Homo sapiens: one gene and its partners. The protein of the gene in region 4 interacts with the protein of the main gene of each other region in a pairwise test. Each region holds a gene or a part of one and is shown on either strand. Other genes may lie near its edges. The genes, in order: ELOVL7, ATP13A2, RBP1 and UBE2J2.

Region 1 (7,790 bases), on a different chromosome or scaffold from region 4:
GTGATCCACCTGCCTCAGCCTCCCAAAGTGCTGGGATTACAGGGGCGAACCACTGTGCCCAGCCTGAGAATACTAAAATACTATATGGAGTATGATGAAGGAAAATATGCATAGAAAAAAAGAGAGAGACAAAGGCAACCTGGTTAAATATTCATTGTGGTAGAATTATGTTCAGTGGGTCTGAACTCTCTTCTTGGCTCCCTGATCTTATCCTTTTGGTACCAATTTCCAGTCTTATTTTCTCTCTCCTCAAGCCTCTCCATGCACAGCCAATTCTTTCTTGGCAATGCCTCTTGGGAGCAGTCCAGGCCCACTTCACCTTATACAGGTTTTTGTGAAAAGATTCCTATTTGGCCTGACTGTAGCCTATCTATGGCCAGAATAACACTGTCGTTCTATTGCTGAATACATCTACTGTGTTAATCTGTCCATTTATGTTTTATGCACTTTTATGTATGTGCTACGTTTTTCAATAAAAAGGTTTTTTTTTAACTTTATGTGTTTTCATATTTTGTTTTGTCAAGATAAGGATAAATGGTTTTCTGCTGATTTGCTTCATTATACCTCTAAATGTAATGTTTCATCAGAACAGCTGGGTACCTGTTTGTGACAATGGAGTGAACACAGGCTTTTCTCCCCTTCATGTACAATGTCTACCAGCTCCTACACGTTTACCAATGCAAACTCCGTAACTTCCTGTAAAACCTGGCTTAAAAATTTCCATCATCAAACCTGCCTGATGTGTGCTACCAAAATTTATACTGTATCATCTTCTACATTTATCAAGCAACTACTAGCTGTAAGGCCTGAAGATTTAATGTCCTAAGCTGTTTGCAATCTTTTTGTGCAAAGCAAACATAAAAGATGATAACAAATAGCAGAGAAGGGCATATGTGTTCAAAGTGGGGAAGAGGGAGAGTGGTGAAGAGAGGATGGGAGTGGGCGAGACTGATAAAGGCTAGAAGACACCATGTAAAAATTGGATAGAAGATATTTAACGAATGGGAGAGGAATGGCACGGCACCTTGGAGACCAGGATAATGGCAGGACCCTTAATGGAAATGAGCATCTGGAGCTGTTTTGGGGAAAAGCCGGGCAAGTCCAAGCGGAATATTATAATGTGCACTGACAGACGTTACACTAAAACTGAAGAAGACATGGAAAGCACAGAATCTTAAGCCAGATAAATACAGGTGATAGATGAAGTAACAAAGTCCCAAAAATCTATTTTTCTTAAAAAAAAAAAAAGCGGGGGCAGGGGGAGGGTGTGGGGATCCTAAACTAGTATAAAGACACATAAGAAGGAAAAGAGGGACCTGAGATTGACAGCCTGGTCAACGATGCCTGAAACAGCACGGGACTTCAGAAAATAAGGACGAGCAAACGAACTCTAGGTGAGGCAGTGTAGGACAGTGGTTAACAGCTCCAGTGCTGGAGACAGAACCCCAGAGCTGGAATCTCCTACCGCTGAGATGGGTGTGGCCTTGGGCAAGTTACTTAACCTCTCCGTGCCTCAGTTACCTCATCATTAAAATGAGAATAATATTAATATCTACTTCCCAGGATCGTTGTGAAGATTAAAAGCTTTTACACAAGAACTGACATCAGTGCCTGGCACCTAAGCACTGATAAATGTCTGCCACGGGGTGAGGGGTGGATTTTATTTAGTTCTCGGTGACCTTGGGGAGACCAATTTCTGATCAGTAGTACGAAGAGAAACTACAAAGAAAGGGAATGAATAAGCGGGTGCGTGGTAAGAACGCAGAGGCAGCCACCAGGTATCGATGACCCTTTCGGAGCACGTAAGCAATAAAAGTGAGGAATGAAATAAAGGGTAATCCGAGAGCACAGGGTTAAGTGAACATGCTTTCCGAGGGGAGATCGTAGCAAGAGGGAAAAGACCACTGGCGAGGAACTCGGGTCGCTAAAACTGTTCTTCAGTCGACGCGGGACTAACTACACTGGGAGCAGGACAGGTGTAAAGACCCGCTCCTTCCCGTCCCGAGTTCCCCAGGGAGCTCCAAAGAGCGCTCTGTCCGCACCGGGTGAAGTTTGAAACAGCTCTGACTTGAAGGGGGAAAGCCCATTTCCCAACGAACCTGGGAAAGCCCATTTCCCAACGAACCTGGGAAAGCCCATTTCCCAAAGAACCAACGATACCTGGGACGACAAAACAACAGGCTTTCCTGTTTCCATCTCCGGCACGACCTGTTCCACGGCTCTGTATTCATCAGCCTCCTCCCGGCCAGCAGCAGCCACCAAGACAGGATGCGGCTCGGGGAGCCGAAGGGACAGCGCCCCAAGTTCATCTGGCCGCGGGAGCAAAAAAAGCGCCCAAAGGGGAAGGAAGGAAACAGAAAGAAAGGGGCTCCGGAATTTGGGGGGGTGGCTAGCGAGGCCAGACCCCGGAGCTGGGAAAATGACCTCCGCGTCCAAGGTCGAGCAGGTCCTTCTCCCTCCCAGTCCCGCCGGCGAGCACCTCTGCCCCTCCCGCTCCGCTCCGCAGGGCCAGCGCCGCGCGGGACCCCAGTCCAGGCTCCGCTCCGCAGCGCGCCCACCGGGCCCGACCTTCCCTTCGGGATGCTGCCGGGTGGGGGCTCCCGAGAAGGCGCAGGTGAGCGCCGCGGCCCCGCGCTCCGGCGAAAAGGGCCTCGGTCCTCCCCACGCGCAGGCAGCGGGGACAGAACTTCCCAAGCGCCTCCCGAGCCCAGGGAGGGCCTGGCCCCGCTCCCGGGGCCCCCGCACCCGGGTCCCACTTCTCGCGCGCCGCGCCCAAGTTCCTCCATCCGGCCACTCCCGACGCCGTTCCCCTCGGCTCTGCCTCCCTCCCCAGTCTCTTCTCCTCCGCGCGCCGGGAAAGTTTGGCCCCTGCCCGCCGGCCTGGAACCCCGCACTCACCGCACAGGGAGCGGAGCCGAAGCGCCGGGCGCGCGCGGGAGAGAGGGCGGCGACTGGCAGCGCGAGCGCGGAGCTCCTCACAGCGGCCCCCGCTGTCCCGGCCGCCGACTGGGTTGGAAAGGGGAGGAGGCCGCCGGGTGTCACCTGCCCGCTATCCCACCCAGCCGCGTGACGCGCGCAGCGCCGCCCCCTGCCCGCCGCCGCCAGGTGCCCGCCGAGGGCCGGAGGGAGGAGCCGGGGCGGCGCGAGGGGGAGCGGCCGGGAGGGCGGAGGCCGCCCCGGCCTCGCCTCCGCCGCGCGCCCTGACTCTCGGGACTGGGGCCCACCGGCCGCTCTGGGTTAGCGGGGCTGGTCGTGGCACCGATGACCTTTCTTTCCGAGAGCAGATGCCATCACTTGGGGGACATCTCCAGGCTGACATAGCAGAGTGGAAATTGTCGTCATGCGTGACTCATTTGGGAATGAGCAGTAGAAAAATCCGAAATGAGGAAAACCTAGCTGAGGCTGGAGGCGGAGAAAAAGGGGACTCCTTGCTTCTGAAAGGGTATTGGGAGGGTTAATTCGCATCTGAAATGGAAGCCAGACCAAGAGGAGAAGGCCCTGGGAGGGGAAGGCCGACTTGGTTCAGCTCCATCCCCTGCTTATAAGGAATAAGAAACTAGAGAATTGAGGCAGCCTGGGGGGCATGGGGAGAGGACTTTTAGAGCAATGAAGATTAGATTGTATATCATCTAACTTTGTTTCTGGTAACAGCAACTGCTGCAGGAAAAAAAGTCTAGAAAATTCATTTCTCGTTACCTACTGTTGGATTGGAAAGTGGGGGTGGGGATGAGCGTTCGGAGTGTGCACCTGCGCTTGGTTTATTTATTTTTTAAACGTACCTGGCCTTGTGTCTGGTAATGATCCTCCTAATCGCTGGTATGATTTGGATCATCAATAGCTGAAAGGCAAAATAGGGGCCTAGAGAAGTTCCCTGCTTCTGAGGCAAAACCAAAGGCTGGTGTTGAACTGTCCAGAAACCTAAAAAACAATAATCATTTTTAGTTGCAGTCCTGACCCAACCACCTCACAAATGTGGGCTTTGAGTTTGTATTGCGAGTTCTCAGCATGGAATCAAGAAACACAAAAAGGGGCTGGGAGCGTCAGGACCACCAGAGAGGATGGGTAGGGAGAAAAAAAAAATTGGGGTGTCGGAAGCATATTTTCCTCACATGTAGGGATTGCCTTCGGCAGCTTAATCCCACTACATTAAACAAGAGGTTTTAATGTTTTTATGTAAAACTTCGAAAGTGTCCATTGAAAGAAAAGCAAAAAAAAAAAAAAAAAAAAAAAAAAAAGCTTAAATTGCAAAGAATCTCGAAGTCAAAAAAACTAAAGATTTCTCCTTTCTTTTAGATAACTTTGCTTTCATATTAAAAACAGATCATTTAGTAGACTTAGGAAGTCTTTTGGGAACGGGAGACAATTGCCTAATGATACTAGCCTTTGAGTCTATCACAATTTACCATTTATATATACTTATGAAATTTCAAATATGCAGAAGCTCAAATGGATTCATTTATTTAACAAATACTGGAGTGCTGCTATGTTCCAGGCCCTGAAGTTTCAATAGATAACAAATTCCCCGTTCTCAGGGACTATACGTTCATTCTAGTTGGAGATGACAGACAATACATGAATAAAGAAGTAAAAAAAATGTAGTGTTCAGCCAGGCGCAGTGGCTCACGCTTGTAATCCCAGCACTTTGGGAGGCCGAGGCGGGCAGATCGTGAGGTCAGGAGTTCGAGACCAGACTGTGCAATACAGTGAAACGCCGTCTCTACTAAAAATACAAAAATTAGCCGAGTGTGGTGGTGCGTGCCTGTAGTCCCAACGACTTGGGAGGCTGAGGCAGGAGAGTCGCTTGAACCTGGGAGACAGAGGTTGCAGTGAGCAGAGATCTCGCCACTGCACTCCTCCAGCCTGGGCGACAGAGCTAGACTCTGTCTCAAAAAAAAAAAAGAGGAAAAAAAAGAAAAAAAATGTGATGTTCAGGGTTTGATAAGTGCTATGAAGAAAAATAAAGAAGGGAAGGGGATGGAGACTTTTGGAGGTGGGGAGTTGTGTTAAATGTTAAAGTGGTTAGGGAAGGCCCCAGTGGAAGCAGGCATTTCAGCCCAGATTTTGAACAGGTAAGGTGACACACCTGTGTGCCTATCCAGTAACAGCATTCCACTCAAAGGGAATGGCAAGGCTAAAAGCTCTGGGGGTGTGGTGTGGGATATTCCATTCATAGACCAGCAAAGGGGAGATGTCAGATGAATTTCAGTGAGTGAGGACAGTAAGAAATGAGGTCAAAGAGTTAAGGAAGCATTTTGAGTAAAAAACTGTCATACTTTGACATTTTCAAGAGTATTTTGGCAACTTTTTTGAGAATAGGGCATGGGGTATGGAGGCAGAGAAGAAGGACAGAAGTAAGACGATGATCAGGAGGCTCTTGGGAAATCCAGATGAGAGATAAAGGTGGCTTTGACCAAGTTGGTAGTAGTGAAAGAAGATTTAAAAAAATACATTCTGAAGGTAATATTAACAGGATTTCCTGAGAATTTGATATGGGCTATGAGAGAGAGAAAAAAGAGGTCAAGGATGACTCCAGGGTGTTTGCCTTGGGTAACTCGAAGAAAAAAAATGCCATTTACTGAAAGAAAAAAAAACTGTGAAAGAAAAATGTAGGGAGAAGGGCAGGTCAGGAGTTGTTTGGCATTGCTTTAATTTGAGATACCTGTTACCTATCTAAATGGGAATGAATGTCAAGTAGGTAGTTGATTACACTAGTCTGGAGGTCAAGAAAGAGAGGTCTGGGCTAGCAATATAAATCTGGATGTAGTCAGTTTCCAGATGACACTGAAAGGCATGAGAATGGCTAAGAGCACCAAGAGTGAGAATAGAGAAGAGATTATCCCTCCTTTCCCCATTTGCTAAATTCTCACACACGGGGTTCTGTGTTTAGGCTCTTGATTCCATTCCACTGTCTATGTGTCCTGCCTTATATTTTCTTTTACTTTTACTATTTTATGTAAATGTGAAAAGAAGCTTTCTTTCTTGTTTTCAATGAAAAGCTATGGCAGGATTTTTATTTTAATTGTCTTAAAGTTATTTAGGGATAACCTGTCATCTTTATGATATTGAGGTGACCCATCCATGAACATATATCTCCATAGTTGGTCTTTCACATATTTTATTATGCTTATTCTTAGGAACCTTATAATTATTGCCACTACTATCAACGTTTTTTTTTTTTAAGACAGGGTCTCACTCTGTTGCCCAGGCTACAGTGCAGTGACACAATCATAGCTCACTGCAGCCTTGAACTTCTGGGCTCAAGCGATCTTCCAGCCTCAGCATCAGAGAAGCTAGGACTACAGGCATGCACCACCATGGGGGGCTAATTTTTTAATTTTTTGTAGAGACGGGATCTTGCTATGTTTCCCAGACTGGTCTCAAACTCCTGGTCTCAAGAACCTCCTTCTTCAGCCTCCCAAAGTGCTGGGATTACAGGTGTAAACCACCGTGCCTGGCCTGGTATATGTATTTTTAAATTACATTTTCTAAATGTAAATATAAGAACGCTAATTTTTGTTTAATGGTTGTAAATCCTTTGTCTTTACTAAATTATTAGTAATTTGTAGAGTGCCTCTGGTATTCTCTTGAGGCAACGATAACCCTTGTGAATAATTACAATTTTTTTCACTATATTTTATTCTTTAAGAGAAAATTGAACCCTGTCAACTTCTTACTCTATGTCAGTATCATATGGATTTAACTTTTACCAGTGATTCTTATACTTTACTGAGAGTCACAATGCTTGGGATGTTATGCAAGTTCCTGAAAATTATTTTGAGATGCTGATTTAGTGAGTCTGGAGAGTGGGCCAAGGAATGTGCATCTTAACACACGCTCTTAACTGATTCTGTTAAGAGTTGCTGAGACACCTTACATGTGACCTATCTTTTCTGATACTTATCATTGCCTCCCCAGCTGTGCTATAAGCCCTAAAGGGAAGATATTTTATCTACTCTCTCTTTATATCTGTGGTGCCTAGGATATTAGCCTACAAACAGTGGGTGCTAAATAAATATGTAGATGGCAAAAAGAAATTTAGAAAAGTTGTGGAATGTACTTTTGTGAGTTTCATATTTAAATGCTTTAAAATGTTTTCCTATTTTTTTATATAGATTTCATAATGATAACTCTGAGAGATAATGATAACTCTGATATCATCAGAGGAAGAACATAATTGCAATATGATAGGTTCATTGAGTAAATGACTATCAACCATTCCCACATCTTGTTTCTTTACCACAAGGTATCTGTAGCCTGCCAGACTTAAAGGCTTCATCCTTTTAATTTTTTTTGGCATTGAAATGCAAACTATGAGTTTCAGAAAAATCATTTTCTTTCTGGTAATCCTGTTCACATATCTAAGATATATGTAAAATTAATATCTCCAAGACAATGTGAGATACAGAATGAGAACATCCCTCAAGTTATTATAACAATCAATATAATTATTTTCCTGTAAACCTCAGTTATTTGAAAATACTCATGATTTTTGACTGTGAAGAATTGCCACTTATTATGATCATGAAATTAACTTTGATCTGACTTCAAATATTATAAAAATGCTTTCTGTGCCAACTATATTATCTGAATGTTTATTCAATCAGTTTATCTTGATATCACAGTTTTGTGAAGGCCAAATCTAACATAATAGTATCTAGTTAAAATTCTCATGTCCTACATTTCATAATAATAAACTGCTCTTCAAAGAGATAAAACTACTATCATAATTTACATTTTATTGCATGGGTAAATAATATACCATCAGGAAAAACTATTTTAGAAATTTAATG
Region 2 (7,033 bases), about 16 Mb from region 4:
ATTTGTGAGGACCTAGTGGGTACCAGGCTCCGTGCCTGGTGTTTTTCTCATCTCCCCCAAGCCTTGCCACCTCTCCAACCACACAGCCGGAGAGTGGCAGGGTCAGGATCTGGGCCCACGTCATCTATTCTGGGACCTGCCAGCTCCAAGGCACAGGGCTGTGTCCCCTCCCTAGTCCTGGGACGGCTCTGGGTACGGAGCTCTGCAGATACTCACCGTGTAGAGGATCAGGACGGAGATGAACTGGGTCAGGCTGTACAGAGCCATGTACTTGAAGACGCTGAACGAAGTGTCAAGGGAACAGCGCCCCTCCCTGGGTGGCAGGGCACGGACATTAGGGGACCCAGGTTGGCTGACCAGCCCTGCTGAGCCCTCACCCACCGGTCCCTGCCTGCCTTACCTGATGACCATGGGCACGCACTCAATACTGGCCATGCTCGAGGTGAAGGGTGAGACCACTGAGGCTTCTGCCTGGGACAGCGAGATGCCGACATCAGCCGCCTTCAGGGCCCCACAGTCATTGGCGCCGTCTCCGCACATGCCCACGCAGTACCTGAAGAGAGGTGTGGACAGGTGTGGCCTGGGGAATTACCCCACCACCCCATGGGTGGGCTGGCAGAATATGATGACAGCTGGGCCCCTAATGCCACATGGTGCCTGGTGTACAGGAGGCGCTCAGTGAATAGATGCAATTATTATTATTATTATCATTATTATTATTATTTTTTGAGACGGAGTTTCACTCTTGTTGCCCAGGCTGGAGTGTAATGGCATGATCTCAGCTCACTGCAACCTCTGCCTCCTGGGCTCAAGTGATTCTCCTGCTTCAGCCTCCCAAGTAGCTGGGATTACAGACGCCCGCCACCACGCCTGGCTAATTTTTTGTATTTTTAGTAGAGATGGGGTTTCACCATGTTGGCCAGGCTGGTCTTAAACTCCTGATCTCAGGTGATCCACCCGCCTCGGCCTCCCAAAGTGCTGGGATTACAGGCATGAGCCACCGTGCCCGGCCTATTATTTTTTGAGACAGAGTCTCCCTCTGTTGCCCAGGCTAGAGTGCAGTGGCGTGATCTCTGCTCACTACAACCTCCTCTGCTGCCCAAGTGCCCTCAGCCTCTTGAGTAGCTGGGATTACTGGTGTGCGCCACCATGCCCAACTAATTTTTGTATTTTTAGTAGAGACAGGGTTTCACCATGTTGGCCAGGCTGGTCTTGAACTCCTGACCTCAGGTGATCTGCCTGCCTCAGCCTCCCAAAGCGCTGGGATTACTGGCATGAGCCACCGCGCCTGGCCTATTACTATTTTTTGAGACGGAGTCTCGCTCTGTTGCCCAGGCTGAAGTGCAGTGGTGTGATCATGGCTCACTGCAGCCGCAGCCTCCCAGGCTCAAGCAACCCTCCTGCCTCAGCCTCTTGAGTAGCTGGGATGACCGGTGTGTCACCACACCTGGCTAATTTTTAAATTTTTAATAAGAGATGGGGTCTCACTTTGTTGCCCAGGCTGGCCTCAAACTCCTGGGCTCAAGTGATCCTCCCACCTCGGCCACTCAAAGAGGTGGGATTACAGGAATGAGCCACCGCACCCAGCCTACAATTATTATTTTTAGCATGAAAGACCTGGGAGAGCCTGCCTGCTTTTGGTGAGGAGGGGTGACAGCTCTCTGGTGCCTGAGGAGGGAGACAGGGCCCTGGGGAAGGACAGATGAACAGACGAACGGACAAGCTCAGTCTCCGCAGGCCCTTGCCCACACCCTCTGCCGAGCACTCACTGAAGCTTCTGTAGCTCGCACACCAGCTCTGTCTTCTGCTCAGGGGCCATGCGGGCAAAGACAGTGCCCTGGACCAGGACCTGGGAGCACAGGGAGATGGGGGAGGGCTGAGGCACCCACCAGGGAGAGCGAGCCGTGAGGAAGGAGACAGAGCAGGGGAGGCGCAGGGCGGCCAGGGAGCTGGGGGCGGCCCTACCTTGGGCAGCAGCTTGGGGAAGTGCTTCACAATGATACCAAAGGTGGGCCCGCTGAGGGCCAGGTGCCTGGATCGGGGGTCTGGCTCCACGGTGTAGCTTGCAGCCTGGTCAGGATCCTGGGGGCCCAGGAAGCTCAGCTTAGCTCCCCCTGCCCACCCTGGAGAGTTGGGGCCTGGGTCAGGTGACACAGGGGTGGGGTCACTGGGTGAGGTACAGCTGGAACTCTGGGTTAGCCTCACCTTAACGCCATTCACGGCTGTGGGGGACTCCATCGGCAGGAACTCGAGAGAGGCAGGCTGACCCCGCTCAGGGTGGGTGGCGTGGACGATGATCAGATGCTCCTGGGGGGCCACCATGCCACAGCCCCGGGCCACAGTCACCGCTGTCTGCAGGTTGTCCCCTGGGGGTTATGGGGCAAGGTGAGGGTCTGAGGCTATCCGGGGAGGCCATCCTCATCCTGATCCTTACAGATGGGAAAACAGGCTGGATGAAATCCGTCTGCCACCACCAGCCAAGTGAGCTGAGGCAGGTTACCAACATCCCTTTGCCTCAGTTTTCTCATCTGTAGATCCAGGCATTGAAGGGTCTTAGGAGAACCTGGAGCCGTGGGCTGGAGCTCCACATATACTCCTTTTTTTTCTTTTTTTAAGACAAGAGTCTCTCTCTGTGGCCCAGGCTGGAGTGCAGTGGCTTGATCTCGGCTCACTGCAACCTCCTTCCTCCTGGGCTCAAGCAATTCTCCTGCCTCAGCCTCTTGAGTAGCTGGGATTACAGGAGGGTGCGACCACACCAGGCTAATTTTTTTTGCATTTTTAGTAGAGATGGGGTTTCACCATGTTGGCCAGTCTGGTCTTGAACTCCTGGCCTCAGGTGATCCCCCTGCCTCGGCCTCCCGGAGTGCTGGGATTACAGGCACGAGCCATGTGCCCAGGCTACATATACTCCTTACTGCTGTGTGACTCTGCTGCCAAGTGCCCATGAATGTGTGTGCACATATGTGTGTGTGCAGGGGCGGGGAGGACAAGGACACAGACCTCTTAGCTCCTGCTGTCTCACCCTAGCTAGAATCTTTTTTTTTTTGAGACTGGGTCTCTCTCTGTTGCCCAGGCTGGAGTGAAATGGCGTGATCTCAGCTCACTGCAACCTCCACCTCCCGGGTTGAAGTGATTCTCCTGCCTCAGCCTCCCGAGTAGCTGGGATTACAGGCATCCACCACCATACCTGGCTAATTTTTTGTATTTTTAGTAGAGACGGGGTTTCACTATGTTGGCCAGGTTGGTCTCGAACTCCTGACCTCAAGTGATCCGCCCGCGTCGGCCTCCCAAAGTGCTGGGATTACAGGCGTGAGACACTGTGCCCGGCCATTTTCGTATTCTTTGTAGAGACGGAGTTTTGCCATGTTGCCCAGGTTGGTCTTGAACTCCAGGGTTCAAGACATCCTTCTCCTTTGGCCTCCCAAAGTGCTGGGATTACAGGCATGAAGTACCGTGCCCGGCCAGAATCTTTCTCTTCCTGCTCCTTGAGCTTGTCACAGCCTCTGAGGCTGACATCATTATCCCCATTTCTCAGAGGTGCCACCTGGAACCCAGGCTGTCTGACAGCGCACATGGGTTCCTTGGAAGTCACTCCACTCCTCTGAGTCTCAGTTTCCTCATCTGTCAAACAGGGGTGACAATTACCACTTGCGGGGGGGATATTGTGAAGATTCACGAAATGTTTAAAAAGGACCTGGCCTGAAGCAAGGGCCCAAAAAGATGCCCCAAAAAGGAATCCCTGGTGCCCCTCTTCTCTGCCAGGAAGGGGCGGATTCTGCCCTGCTAGCCCGGGCCCCTACATGCCATTGTACCTGTCACCATGACGGCGCGGATGCGGGTCCTTCGCAGAGCCTGGATAACTGGCGTTGTCTGCGGCTTCAGTAGGTTCCTCATGACCAGCAGCCCCAGGAGGCTCAGGTCTCCTTCCACAGTGTCCCTGGAGGGTGGGCAGACCTGGATCAGAGGTCATGCAGTGGCCAGGGCCCCTCTCCCAGCCACCAGGCAGGGCATCTTCCTTGGGCTCTGCCTGCGTGAGAGCCTCCCTCTGCCTAGTCCTCAGAGTGGGTGGGACAGGAGACAGGCCCACCTCGTCAGTTGCTGGGCTGCCTCCAGGCTGGGCACAGTGGGCAGTGGCTTGCTGGCCAGGGCCACGACACGGTAGCCAGCAGCTGTATAGCTCTGCAGCATCTGGGCGAAGTCGGTGGGCACTGCCAGGGAGAGGCAGGTGTCACAAGGAGGGGATGGCAGGGACAGAGGCTGGGTACCCACCCCATTCTGTGCCAATGCCCAACCAGGGGGACTCAGGGGCTTCCCCCTGCACCTGTCTCGGGGTTGCAGAGCCCTGCCACCAGCTCCGGGGAGCCTTTGACGTAGGCCTCGGGCTGAGTGGCCCCTGGCCACGCCACCACCACACTCATGCGCTGCAGAGCCGAAGAGAAGGGGAAGCGGTGGAGGACGCTGACTGGCACCGGGGGCTCCTCCTGCAGGGTTGGAGAGGCAGCTGAGGTGCTGGCTGGGGAGCCCACCCCTCTGCCCTGCACCCAACAGGCCCCCCTCAGCTCACCATTGCCTGCAGCTGGGGCTCCCAAAGTGGGGGTCTCATCACTGCCAAGACCTGGGTCCCAAATGCTGAGTCTGCAGCCGGCTCTTCCTCCAGGACCTGGCAGGCAGGCAGGGAAGTTTGGTGTCTGGGGGCTTTGGCTCACAGAGAGATTTGAGCTAGACTCAGGGAAGACTTCCTTCATGGGAGACTGAATGGTGGGTTAAGAATGTGGGCTTTGGAGCCCGGTGGACTCAAATTCAAACTCTAGCTTTGCTACTTACAAGCTGTTGGGTGACCTGGAATACGTCACTCCAAATCTCCCAGCCTCAGCATCCGTGAAGCAACATTTGAGCTTGCTTGCTAGGGCTTGGGGAAGAGGAAATGAGACCAGGCCTCTGTGGCCGTGCGCTGGCGCATAGTAGGCACTCAGCCTGAGGCCTTGCCATTATTATTATGTTACTTTTATTTTAAGACAGAGTCTTACTCTGTGACCTAGGCTGGAGTGCAGTGGTGTGATCTCGGCTTACTGCAACCTCTGCCTCCCGGATTCAAATGATTCTCCTGCCCTCAGCCTCCCAAGTAGCTGGGACTACAGGCATGTTCCACCGCACTTGGCTAATTTTTGTATTTTTATTACAGACGGGGTTTCACTATGTTGGCCAGGCTGCTTTCAAACTTCCGACCTCAGGTGATCTGCCCACCTCAGCCTCCCAAAGTGCTGGAATTACAGGCATGAGTCACTGCACCTGGCCTATCATTATTATTTTTTGAGACAGGGTCTCGTTCTGTTACCCAGGCTGGAGTGCAGTAGCGTGATCACAGCTCCCTGTAGCCTCGCCCTCCCGGGCTCAATTAATCCTCCCACCTCAGCCTCCTGGGACTACAGGCATGCACCACCACGCCCGGCTAATTTTTGTATTTTTGGCAGAGATGGGGTTTTGCCATGTAGGTCAGGCTGGGGTCCCGGGCTCAAGTGATCCTCCCGTCTTGGCCTCCCAAAGCGCCGGGAGCCACGTTACAGGTGTGAGCCACTGCGCCTGGCCTATTATTATTAATGGTGGGCATAATAAGAGACCACCCTGAAAGATGGAGAGGGAAGACAGGGTGGGATTCGTTAGGCCCCACTGCCCAGAGGCAGGGGGCTGACCTGCTTGGCCTCCTCACCCAGCCAGTAGACTCCACCATCTTCAAGTCCATGGGGTCGCCCACGGGGGTGTCCTGGAGCCGGCTGAGGGCATGGCAGGTGGCCAGTGCTCGGAGCAGGGGCCCCACAGGCAGGCGGCGAGGCTCTGGGACCAGGGGCAGGAATGCCTGCCCCTTCAGGGGCACCACCCCCATCACGTCTAAGCCGTCCTCAGTGAGGGTGCCCGTCTGTGGGAGACAGGTGGGTGGGGCAGCGATGAGTCCTGGGATGGGGGTACCCTGCTGAGCTGGGCCTCCAAACCCCAGGCCCGGCGGACCCTATGGGAACCCCAGGAACTCGAGCTGGAGCCAAAAGATGACCTTTCTTGACTGCTGTCCTTGGCACATGTGATTCCCTCTGCTGGGGTCCCCCTCCCCAGCCCCCACCGTCTCTCTGTCTAGCATCATCTCTTCCAGGGTGTCTTCCTCCTTAACTCCCAAGTTAGGGCAGGTGGTTTGCTCTGGGCTCCTACCCATGGCCTCTTCACTTCCCCACACTTGTGCATTGTGGTTAAGGACCCGGCCCACGGTTGGCTCGCTCTCTCTCTCTCATTTATTTATTTATTTATTTATTTATTTTTATTTTTATTTATTTTTATTTTTTGAGATGGAGTCTTGCTCTGTCGCCCGCGCTGGAGTGCAGTGGCGCAATCTCAGTTCACTGCAACCTCCACCTCCCGGGTTCAAGTGATTCTCCTGCCTCAGCCTCCCGAGCAGCTAGGATTATAGGCACGCGCTACCTCGCCCACCTAATTTTTGTATTTTTAGTAGAGACGGGGTTTCACCATGTTGGTCAGGCTGGTCTCGAACTCCCGACCTCAGGCAATCCACCCGCCTTGGCCTCCCAGAGTGCTGGGATTACAGGCATGAGCCACCACGCCCAGCCTCAATATATCTGTTGAATGAGCGCATGAGTCAGTGCCTGCGTTCCCCATCCTAGACTCTAACTGCCCAAGTACGCGTCTGGCTCCTTGGCTAGCCTGGGAACTATAAGAATCTGGTCATCCCCCTCCCCGGTTTATTTATTTTTTTTTGAGACGGAGTCTCACTCTGTTGCCCAGGCTGGAGTGCAGTGGTGTGATCTCAGCTCACTGCAACCTCTGCCTCCCGGGTTCAAGCGATTCTCCTGCCCCAGCCTCCCGAGTAACTGGGACAACAGGCATATGTCACCGTGCCTGGCTAATTTTTTATATTTTCAGTAGAGACGGGGTTTCACCATATTGGCCAGGCTGGTCTTGAACTCCTGACCTCATGATCCACCCGCCTCGGCCTCCCGAAGTGCCGGGATTCCAGGCATGAGCCACTGCG
Region 3 (7,033 bases), on a different chromosome or scaffold from region 4:
GCAACACAGTGTGGCAAAGAAAAGCACAGGGTGGGAGTGAGGGGATGGGGACTACCCAGAGAAGGGGATCCCAGAAGAATTTCTGAAAGAGGTGACTTCTGTGCTTCATTGTAAAATAAAGCAGGGAGGTAGAAGGGAGGGTTTTGGATACAAAGGAAAGGACAAGGGCCACCTTTTCTTCTCACTACAGCATCAGCGTCAATCGAGCATCAAGCAGTAGTCGAGCAGACCGTGCAGATTCAGCCACTGGACGAATCCAGTGAAACTGGTCTAGGATGCATGGTTACTATCACTGCCCCAGGACTCAGGGATGCCCACTCTCAAGTAGATAGCCATTCGCTCACCTGTTGTGGCCTGTTGGGAGATGGAACAGCCTGTCTGCTCTGCTCAAGCCTTCGCCTAGCCCCATGCAGTACAGAAAAGCCCTTCTCTCTGGGCTGGCCGCTGGGTGGTATGCTGCTTTGGACTGCCGGAAGGACATGGCTGGATGGGGGTAGGATGATAGAATTAGAGCAGCTGTCAGGCCTGAGACTTGTGAATGGAGGGGAGCTGGGTACCCAGAGGCCACCAGCTGGGCTCTCTGAGGGCCGCCAGGGGTCCTGGACAAGGTGGTTGCCAAAGATCACTTTCACTGCTACCCCCTCTGCCTCACACACTGGGCACCCATCAGCCAGGAGCAGTGGCCCAGAGGAGTTTGTTCCCAGCATATTACAGGAGTCCCATTCTCACTTGGGATCGGTCATTCGTCTATTTTTTTCATTCCTCTCTGGACACCACAAGCATCTCATGGTGCTTCCACTATCTTTGCAACCCCTGTGTCAATGAGACAAATCACACACGATTCCTGCCCTCATGGAGTTCAGTGTAAGGAGGAGGCAAATTGAAGCAGCCAATCACGACGTAGTGGACACTGTGCTGATACAGGCAGAGAAGCACTCCCTGCTCGGTCTGAGAGGTCAGGGAACGCTCCCACAGGAATTGGAGTCTGAACTGTGGCTTATAGGATAGACAGGAAGTAGCCAGGCAAACAGAAAGGGGTTGAAAGAAAGGCCACGGCCGAAAGCTGTCCCACACCAAGCCCTGGGCTTGGCCCTGGGGTCGCAGAGGCAACAAGGCCTTCTGGACACCCAGGCCAGTGGAGGAGACAGGCACATCTTCAGGCCATTACAGCTCAATGCATGATGGGAGCACGGTGGGCTGGGGAGCATACAGCTGGGAGTAGGAAAGCAGTGGTCAGGGAAAGTCCCAGAGGAGGCGACAGCTGAGAGGGGCCTTAAAGGACTAATTAGGGCAGATGTGGAGAAAAGGATAAGAGCTTTCCAGTAAGCGGGAACCACATGTACAAAGGCCCAGGGTCAGAAAAGCCTGGCTGGGAGGGAGTTTCAGAGGTGAGAGAGGAGCAGTCTGCGAAGACTTCAGCATGCCTGGAGTGCAAGATGTGGCTGGGAGAGAAGAGAGCCAGGAGAACCTGGCAGGGAGACTTGATGTGACCCTGACAGGCCTCTGTGAGTCCTTGCTGGGAGAGGTGTGGCCAGGCTGACATCCCTCCCCAAAGGGCAGAGGCTCTCACTGGCTGAGAGATCTCTGATCCTGCCTCTTTTCCATGGGAACCTTATCTGTATTCTAGAACTGCAGCCAGAGGGTGAAACCCAGCCTGCAGATGTGTTTTGTTTGGCCTGTACAATGTTTGAAAAGCTTCAGAGTCAGTTGCCAATAATTGCCAAAGATTGTAAGATTTCACAGAAAATCCGTATTTCTGGCTGTTCTTAACAAAAACAACAAGAAAAGGAAAGGCCCTGGAAACACTGGGCACCTGTTTATTCCTGCACTGCGTGGATCCCTGGAATATGTTGCAGCTGCTCCCTTTAGATGTTACATTTCCTAGTTTACCACAGTCTTCAGCCCATCCTGTTACCTGAAGTCAAGGATCAAATGGCCATTTGTCGCTGTTTGCACTGTGGGTTCCTTTAGAGCTGTGGATCCCAAAGCAGAGGCAGCAGCAGCAGCAGCAGCATCACAGGGAACCTCTTAGAAATACAGATTATCTGGCCACACCCCTGGCCTACTGAATCAGAAACTCTGGGAGTGGGGCCAGCTATCTGTGGTTCAATAAGCCCTCCAGGTGGTTCTGATGCAACTAAAGCTTAAGAATCACTGCTCTGGAGTAAAGAAACATACTCTGTTCCTGTGTCTCTATAAAAAAATGGAAAACTGTAAAATTAGGTGTACAGGGCCATGGGCATGTAGAGGGCCAGTTTGGCCCATCACCTGAGTCCTATGGACATTGCAGTCCATGCCCAGAACCACCTGAAACAGCTCTGTGTTCTCTCCCCAGGTGGAGGGGTGGAGGGACTCAGATCTGGGCGGCTCTGCATCACTAGGCTCACATTTCCAGTCTGATCTAATCAGATTTTATGTGACCACAAACAGCAGGCACTATTTTGGTAGAGATATACAAAGTCTGGGCTCAGCTGAACAGACACAGGGCTTTTCTCCATTGCTTCCTGCATGCCTTTGTCCATAAAAATGTGCGATCAGGCCCAGCAAGGAACCAGCAGCATTTGTTGAATATAACACATATGTGCTTTGGCAGGGTGGGAGCTCTTGAGAAAGGAAGGTGCTCTGACTTCAGATAGTGTTTTCTCACTCCCGAGGAAGCGAGCGCCTCAAAATGATTTGGTTCTTTGTCTCGAAGTCCCCCCAGCATGAGCAGGTTTTGTGGGAGAAGACTGAGCCTCGGCCAGGAATCACAGCCGTGAGCCTGGCTCTGCGGGGGTGGCAGAAGGGCCATTTGTCATCCCCGTGTCCAGGTCATGTTTTTCCTGTAGGAGATGGCTTTGTTCACTCGGGGAACAGGCGCCTCCCCCTGTGGCTGGAGCCTCAGCTTCATATCCATCGTTGAACTTAGGATGACCCCTCCACAGGGCCTGCCTTCTGCTCCCAGCCCTCCGCCCCTCTGTCGCTTTCTTTGTTTTTATTATAAAAGGAAAATATTCAAATAGCACAAGAAAGTATGGGCTGAAAAGGGCCCCTTCCCCCACTTGGCCTGATTCCCACTTGGTGGATCTGTCCGGAAATCTTCCTCAGACTTATAATTGATCTATCTATTGATTAGGCAGTTGGCCAAGGTCTCTATCTAAAACCAAAAGAAAGAAAGGAAAAGAAAAAAAGGAATCCACTTCTCTACATATTTTTTTAACTCAGTGATATTTCTTACACATTTTTCCATATCAGCACTTACAGATTTTCTAAGTTCTTTTTTAACCGTCTATGTTTCCTTTCCTTCCCTCCCTTGACTTCCTTACTTACATCCTTCTATTTCTCCACCCATCCATCCATCCATCTAATTATATATGGTAATACATGAAATCCAACAAAGTACTGTTGACACTTTGGTTTAAACTCTTGCCAGCTTTCTGATCCTATTCTTGACCCATTAAAGAGATTTTTTGATTTGTTTTAAAAAACACACACACACACACGCACACACAATGCCACTGGCTAAATTAACTCCCTGGGCTGCAGCGCTGAGAATGCCGTTGGATGTGGGAGCCTCTGAGAGCTGCCCCTGCCCAGATCAGGCACCCGGCATTCAGCTGGGCCCTTTCCAGGCTAGAAACACAGGATCTCTTTCATGTCTTAGCTAAAGTTCTCCGACCTTTGAAATCGGTGTCAGCAGCGTGCTTTTGAGGATTACAAAAAGAAGAATTAAAGCAACCCAAATAAAATTCACAAAGTAGCTTTCAAAAATCACACTGCTTTGTTGGGTTTTGGGTTTTGTTAGGCAGGAACAAAGGAAAATAACATGTACTGAATCTTTACTAAGTGCCATGCCTGCCCCAATTGCTTTTTGTACTTTTTCTCCTTTGGTCCCCACAACAAATGCTGTTCAGTAAGTATCATTATACTCATTTCACAGATGAGAATCTGAGGCTCAAAGAAGTGAAGTGCCTTTTTAGCCCAAGGTCACCCTTGGGCTAGCTGGTGGCAGAGGAAGAATTCTAATTAGTCTGTTTATAAAGCTCTCTACCCCAAGGTCTCCCACAGAGCTTTGCTGAAGGCCAGCACCTCAGTTCCTTATTGTGAGCCTTCTCACAGTCTGAAGGTAAACCCAGGCAGTTTTGACAAGGCCTAGGATGAGTGAAAGGAGCACCGGTATTAGAGTCAGAACATCTATTTGAATTCTTCTCGATTATCTGACAGCGGCCTTAAATGATTAGACACACTGCCTTTGTTTTCATATCTGCAAAACGGGCATCATAATTGCTGCTCAGCGTGTCTCACAAGGCAAAGCTGAGGACCATAGAGATAGTACAGGGCACATGAGCTTGGGAAGCCACAATACTATGTGAGAACAGGGCCAGGGCCTGTGATACCCGAGACTGAGGGGCATGGCATAATCACTTATGATGGCCAGGTATTTACTGAATGAATTACAGCTGTTTGTTTTTCTGACCAACATTGTTCCTCCACCTCCCACCCAAGAGAAGCACTGTTTTCTTTATGGTGGGAATTACTCCTCCTCAACCTTTTGGGTCCTGGTGGGGCTGCAAATCATAGTACCCTGTCTCTTCTGGGAAGAGCACCTTCTGATAGGGTGATCACAGTGTCCCGTGGCCTGTCACATACTTGTGTATGTGGCCCAAGCTGGGCCAGTCACCATTTCCTGGGAGTTAATTTAGGAACCCTGAGAGACAGGTGAGTTCTATTCCGTTAAAGGTTGATGAGCTGTTATGATGTAAGCTTGGTGTTCTCTGAGGCCAGTCCCCTTACCCCACCTTCCTTAGCTGCATGGAAAAATCCAATTGAAGGAAAGTAAAAGATGAGGCCAATAGAGACAGAGAGAATGCAACATTAGAGGGTTACTAGAGTTCCTGACGCACCATTCCTAGATTTTCCATGTACTTCAACCAATACATTTTTTTTCTTTCACCTTAAGTTATGTGAATTGGTTTCCTGCCACTTGCATCTGAAAACATCCTAAGACATTCAAACTCCAGATATCAAGCGTTAAGACCCACATAAGTAGTTAGAGCAGTGGTTCTCAAATTTGAGCATGCCTTACCCCTAGAATTTCTCATTCTGAAAGTCTGGGGTGAGGCTTGAGAACTTGTTTTTCTAACAGGTTCCTGGATGATGCTGATGCTGTTGGTTCAAGGACCATGCTTTTGATAACTACTAACAAAGAAAAACAAGGAAGCAGGCTGGCCTGTGCCTAGTTTCCTGTGATTTTTCTCATCATGATTCAATGTAATAAGCCTGTGCTGGGGTAAAATGTGCCTAGTTCTAGGGGATGAATGAGAATAGGTAGGTGTAGCTCCATCCCAGGATCAGGGTAGTGGGGGATGAAGACTGCCTGGGGACCTCAATCTTGCAGCAGCCCACAGTGGTTTGCAATTGAGGGTCCAAGTAAGTGATACCAATAGTGTGTGCAGCTGGACAGGTGTGAGGTACAACAGAGCAATTAGGAGCTTTGACTTTGAGATGGACCTGGATTTGAATCCTGGTTCTGCCGTACAGCTGTTTCCTTGGCAAGGGTACTTTATCCCTCTGAGCTTCAATGTGCTCATTTGTAAAAGGAGCCAAGGGTAATACCCACCTAATGGAGTTATGTGAGAATTAAATATGGTGATGAATTATTTCTGTTTCCTGTTGCTGTGTAACAAACCACTCTGAAACTTAGTACCCTAACTCAACAATATTTATTTTGTTCACAAATCTGCAATTTGGACAGGGCTCAGTGGGGATGCCTTGTCCCTGCTGCCTGCCCTGCCAGTGGGGAGGTAGAGGATCCACTTTCCAGATGGCTAACCCACACTTACTCTCTGCTGGGTGCCTGGGCTTCCTCACTACGTGGCAGGTAGTTTCCAAGAATGCAAACACCATAGGGTGCCAGCTACCTTTAATACAGGGATTAGTGCGTTCTTCCTTTCTTCCTTCCTCTTCCCACCCCTTCCCTCTTTCTTCCCTCTGTCTTTCCTGAACTGAGGGTCCAAGGATAGCATAGGAATACTCTGGGAAAGAATGGTATAAACAAGATGGGTGTGAAGGTGGGGATGGCATGGAACCCAGTCTCCAAAACCTACCTTTGCCAGCTTTACAGTGGAACTGGTCCTGCACTAAGAAAATAAAAAATAATAATAATAATCTTCTCACAATGTGCAATAAATCAGAAAATCATCTTACTCTTTGACTCAGGGATCCCACTTATGGGATTATATTCCAGGAAAATCACTCTATTTGTACAAAGGTATCTGTTAGTCACTCTGTGATAATAATTCTCAACAACCCACAGAAGCATAACCACTATCTCAGGGCCTACTATGCGGCAGGCCCTGCCCTGTCATTTTATGTTTATTTAATCTCCTAACAATCCTGGATAGGAGGTGCTACTCTCCCATTTTACAGACAGGGAGCCAAAGGTCCTGCCCAGGTTCACATTACTGATTAACCATAGATTTGTGATCTCACTTCGGATGTCTCTGATTCCCTACTTTGTATGGTTTTTATAGAACAGGCTGTCTCCTGCTGGTATACCTAAATATCAAATAACTATGGGTGGTTAGAAAGACTGGCTTTTTAATTCCATAGACCACTATGTAGCCGTGTAAATGATCACTATGAAGATAAATGAAAAGTTTTTATAGGCATTCAGTCACCAAGTTCCATAGATTCTGCTTCTTAACGTCTCTTCCTGTTTTTCTTCATTCCCACTGCTCTGAATATCTCGTGCCAGTAATAATAATAACAATTAACATCTCTCGTGCTTACTGTGTGCCAGGCTCAGCGCTTTCCATGGATTATTTCATTTAATTACTGCAGTATCTTCACATTCATCTCCATTTTACCATGCTCAACACTTCAGCCCATCCCTCCCTTTCTAAAAAGGGAATCTGATCATGCTACTCCCCAGCTCAAAATTCCCAAGGGCTTCCCAGTGCTGATGGGTAAAAGCCAGATGGCACTCAGGCTCTTCAGATCATGGCCCTGCCTGTCTCTCCAGCCCTATTCCTTCCCTCACTCCTTATGCTTG
Region 4 (3,476 bases):
TCCACCTGCCGGGCTCAGGCAATCCTCCCACCTCAGCCTCCTGAGTAGCTGGGACCAAAGGTGCACATCACCACACCAGGTAGTGTTTTGTATTTTTTGTGAGATGGGGTCTCACTACATTGCCCAGGCTGGGTTCAAGAGATCCACCCCTCAGCCTCCCAAAGTGCTGGGATTATAGGCGGCAGCCACTGCACCCGGCAGTAGCGTGTTGAGTAAACACTCTATTCGTTAGCATTCCCCCTCCCATGAGCCTCGGGAGACACCGGGCTTTGGAAGTGATGCTGGCGGTCACAGAAGCGGAGATCAGGGCAGGGCTGGCATCCAGTACGGGATGGGGAGAGAGCCCTGCAGAGGGCTCTACACCATGGCTCCAGCGACGCGATTCCCTGTGGGGACCCACCTGCCCTGCAGCTGCCACACCACCCCAGGCCAGCAGGTGTGACCCCCTGGTCACGGGCCACCCCAGCCCTGAGCACAGAGATGGACACACATCCCGGCCCACACAGACACAAGCAGCATGAAATTCAGAAATAAAGATATAATGAAAGACCTTTTTTTTCCACAAGAATAGGTTAAATACATACAATTGGTAAATTATAGAGCAATTCTGAATAAACTGATCAAAAAACGAAGAAAGATGAGCGCGTGCGGGCTGGGCTTGTCTCACGCCCGCCTCCGGACAGGGTGGGTTTCTTGCCGGCGGCCGTGCCCCACCTCGACGCGATGCACCTGCGGTACATCCCACCCAGGCGAAGTCACGGAACAGACGCAGAAGAGGGGAGACGGCCGAGACCCGGGGAGCCACGCGGCCCGAAACAGCCCCTGCTGGCTCTGGCGTCTTTCCGGGCCGGGGTGCCCCTCTGCCATGTTCCGTGGACAGCGAACACCCGGGCCGGAGCCATTACCTACTGTGAAGGCCAGCGCAGGGGGCACGGGATGTGAGGGAGGCCCCCGAGTGCACGGGGCCTTCTGCAGGGACTCCGGTCCTCCGCCTTCCACCAGCATAGGAGGACGGGCTTCTGGCCCACCGGACATAAGGAATTCAGAGAAAAGGCTCTGCAGGTACCCAAGGCCCCCCAGCCTGCAGCACCGAGGGGCGCCCAGGAGGCCCGGCCTGCGGAGGGCACCGGCAGCCCCCGCCCCGCTCGCGGCCGCCGCAGTCAAGGGCGACTTGTGGTTGGAGTGAGCAGGCTCCTGGCTTCCAGGGCAGCAAAAACCCCCAAGCACTTTCTAGAAGGAATGTGTTTCATTCTGACTGTAAACACATTTGTAAATGCTGAGACCAAACCCCGACTTATGGATCCTGAGCCACGGCCGTCACTGGCCCCGCTAAGCCTCATCACCACACGGCCAGGCCAGACCAGCACCCGCGGACGCCAGCTCCACCCCTGGGCCCCGAGGTTCCCACCCGCTGAGGAGCCGGGAGCTCCGAGAAACGCGCCAGGAGCTCCAAGAACGCAGGAGCAGCCCGCGGTCGGCAGCAAGTTTGCATTTCTAAGTGACCACATCTAATAAAATGAAAAACGGGTTTACTAAAACAGGTCCAAAGACAACACGGAAGATAAGCTACAAATCCAGCACACAAGGCCCACCCACACCAGCCCCAGCGGCCCGTGGCCAGGACAGGGCTGAGGCTCCAGTCTCCTCCAAAGCCCAGTCACACATTTTGGTTTTTGCTTCCCCTTTCAGGTTTTTAAAAGCTAAACCTAGGAGCCTGGTGGGTCTGCCTGTGCTGGGCAGTGTGTCCAGCCTGCCGAGGTCACGCTCTGGTGCGCGGTGCCCTCAGTGGCGCCTTGGGTCTCGGCGCCTGGGCCTCACTCCTGCGCGATGCTCCTCAGCACGTACTTGACCGTGTAAGCAAAGGCTGCAAACCCAACTATCACAAACAAGTTCGCCAGGGCGCCACCCAGGAGTCCGTGGTGCCGGTTGGCCTGCTGGAGCCCTGCGAGGTTTGGGACGGCCCCCGGCGCATGCCCGTTGAGCAGCTGAATCCCGTTCTGGACGAGGTGCGTCTCCCCGTCTGGAACCACGTCTGGCAAGGGGAGAGTCTGGGGTCTGCTACTGAGTTCGTCTTGTGCTTTCTGTTTTTGTTTAATCTCCTAAGAGAAAAACAGCGAGAAAAGCAGCTGGTCTCCAACCAGCGCCTTTCAGGACCAGCACTCCCGTTCTCAGGAGTCCACGGTCCACCACCAAGAACCAAGCCCTAGGCTGTGTCAAATTCCGACCCCATCTCACAGGTGAGGGCCCGAGCGTGGCCGGCCTCACTGGCCCTGTGCCCCTTGGCCCCTGCACTCAGGCAGACCAGAGCAAGGCTGAGCCACAGAGGCCAAGACCAGGGAGCACTCCAGTCCCAGTCCCACATGGCAGCCGCTGTGCCTCCCAGCTATCCCCAGACACCACCCAGCTGGCTGCTCAGAACCACGAGCTCCACGCCCCTGTGGGACAGGCCCAGCCCCCGGCCCACCAGCACAGCTGTCCGCAGGCCACCCCCCAGAGCCCAGGCTTTCTGCCTCCCCTGCCTCGGGGCTCCTGGGGGAGAGGAGCCATCCCCTGGGGAGGTCTGCAGCTTCAGGACACAGATTTTACTCTTTGGAAAGAGGTGAAACTCAAGTGTTTTAACGCAGGGGAAGGCGAAACCCACTTCCGTCTTTCTTACCTCCACGACTTCAGGAAATAATTCACAAAAGACTTTATCTTTCAAATTAAATGCTAAACTCTGCACTGCCAGTTGTCTTTTCTAGGAAGGAAGGGAAGGGAATCAGCCAGAAAACTAATTTCAATTCTTTCAAGATTCTAAAAACAGATGATTTCAAAGTCAAGGGCTGCAGTCTTCGTGTTGCAGAAAGCATTTAATAAGCACACTCTTCACAGCAAACTAACTTATAGTCTTACAAAGCCTTCTTAATCTTCCCCCCATCAATTCATGATATCACACTTGATTCCTATTAAAGACAGGGAAAAACAAGCCACCAAAGCACCGGGCTCCCCGCTGACAAGGCCCGGGCCGTCTGTGCAACTGGTACCGCCTTGGCCCACCCCAAGATCCCAAGGAGGAGCCCCTGGCGGGTGTGGATGAGGCTGGATGTGGATAAAAGCAAGACCGAGAGGCAGCGGGGAACACGAGGCCACAGAGCAAAGCAGTCTCCACGACAGTGCCTGGGACAAGGTGGGAACTCCACCCAGCCCCGCCTACTGAGAAGAAAGGCAGCTGCGGCCGGGCGCGGTGGCTCACGCCTGTAATCCCAGCACTTTGGGAGGCCCAGGCGGGCGGATCACGAGGTCAGGAAATCAAGACATCCTGGTTAACACGGTGAAACCCCGTCTCTACTAAAAATACAAAAAAAAAAATTAGCCGGGCGTGGTGGCGGGCGCCTGTAGTCCCAGCTACTTGGGAGGCTGAGACAGGAGAATGGCGTGAACCCCGGGGGGCGGAGCTTGCAGTGAGCCGAGATTGCGCCACTGCACTCCAGCCTGGA

Evidence for each region.
Region 1: the proteins of UBE2J2 (region 4) and ELOVL7 interact in binary tests that used the Homo sapiens proteins (3 or more experiments, as listed by UniProt).
Region 2: the proteins of UBE2J2 (region 4) and ATP13A2 interact in a two-hybrid assay, tested with the Homo sapiens proteins (one study listed by BioGRID and IntAct).
Region 3: the proteins of UBE2J2 (region 4) and RBP1 interact in binary tests that used the Homo sapiens proteins (3 or more experiments, as listed by UniProt).

The regions. Positions count from the first base shown.
Region 1 is NC_000005.10:60,841,262-60,849,051, forward strand, and holds the start of ELOVL7 (very long chain fatty acid elongase 7), read right to left. Parts: upstream 3,009-7,790; 5' UTR 2,899-3,008; exon of another isoform or gene 2,787-2,898; coding exon of another isoform or gene 2,161-2,786; intron 1-2,160. UniProt on the Homo sapiens protein: Catalyzes the first and rate-limiting reaction of the four reactions that constitute the long-chain fatty acids elongation cycle.
Region 2 is NC_000001.11:16,987,922-16,994,954, forward strand, and holds part of ATP13A2 (polyamine-transporting ATPase 13A2), read right to left. Parts: intron 5,915-7,033; coding exon 5,708-5,914; intron 4,661-5,707; coding exon 4,565-4,660; intron 4,482-4,564; coding exon 4,322-4,481; intron 4,209-4,321; coding exon 4,088-4,208; intron 3,938-4,087; coding exon 3,813-3,937; intron 2,367-3,812; coding exon 2,206-2,366; intron 2,083-2,205; coding exon 1,966-2,082; intron 1,850-1,965; coding exon 1,770-1,849; intron 554-1,769; coding exon 401-553; intron 314-400; coding exon 217-313; intron 1-216. UniProt on the Homo sapiens protein: ATPase which acts as a lysosomal polyamine exporter with high affinity for spermine. Also stimulates cellular uptake of polyamines and protects against polyamine toxicity.
Region 3 is NC_000003.12:139,529,714-139,536,746, reverse strand, and holds part of RBP1 (retinol-binding protein 1), read left to right. Parts: intron 1-7,033. UniProt on the Homo sapiens protein: Cytoplasmic retinol-binding protein. Accepts retinol from the transport protein STRA6, and thereby contributes to retinol uptake, storage and retinoid homeostasis.
Region 4 is NC_000001.11:1,253,389-1,256,864, forward strand, and holds the end of UBE2J2 (ubiquitin-conjugating enzyme E2 J2), read right to left. Parts: intron 2,738-3,476; coding exon 2,657-2,737; intron 2,100-2,656; coding exon 1,815-2,099; 3' UTR 524-1,814; downstream 1-523. UniProt on the Homo sapiens protein: Catalyzes the covalent attachment of ubiquitin to other proteins. Seems to function in the selective degradation of misfolded membrane proteins from the endoplasmic reticulum (ERAD).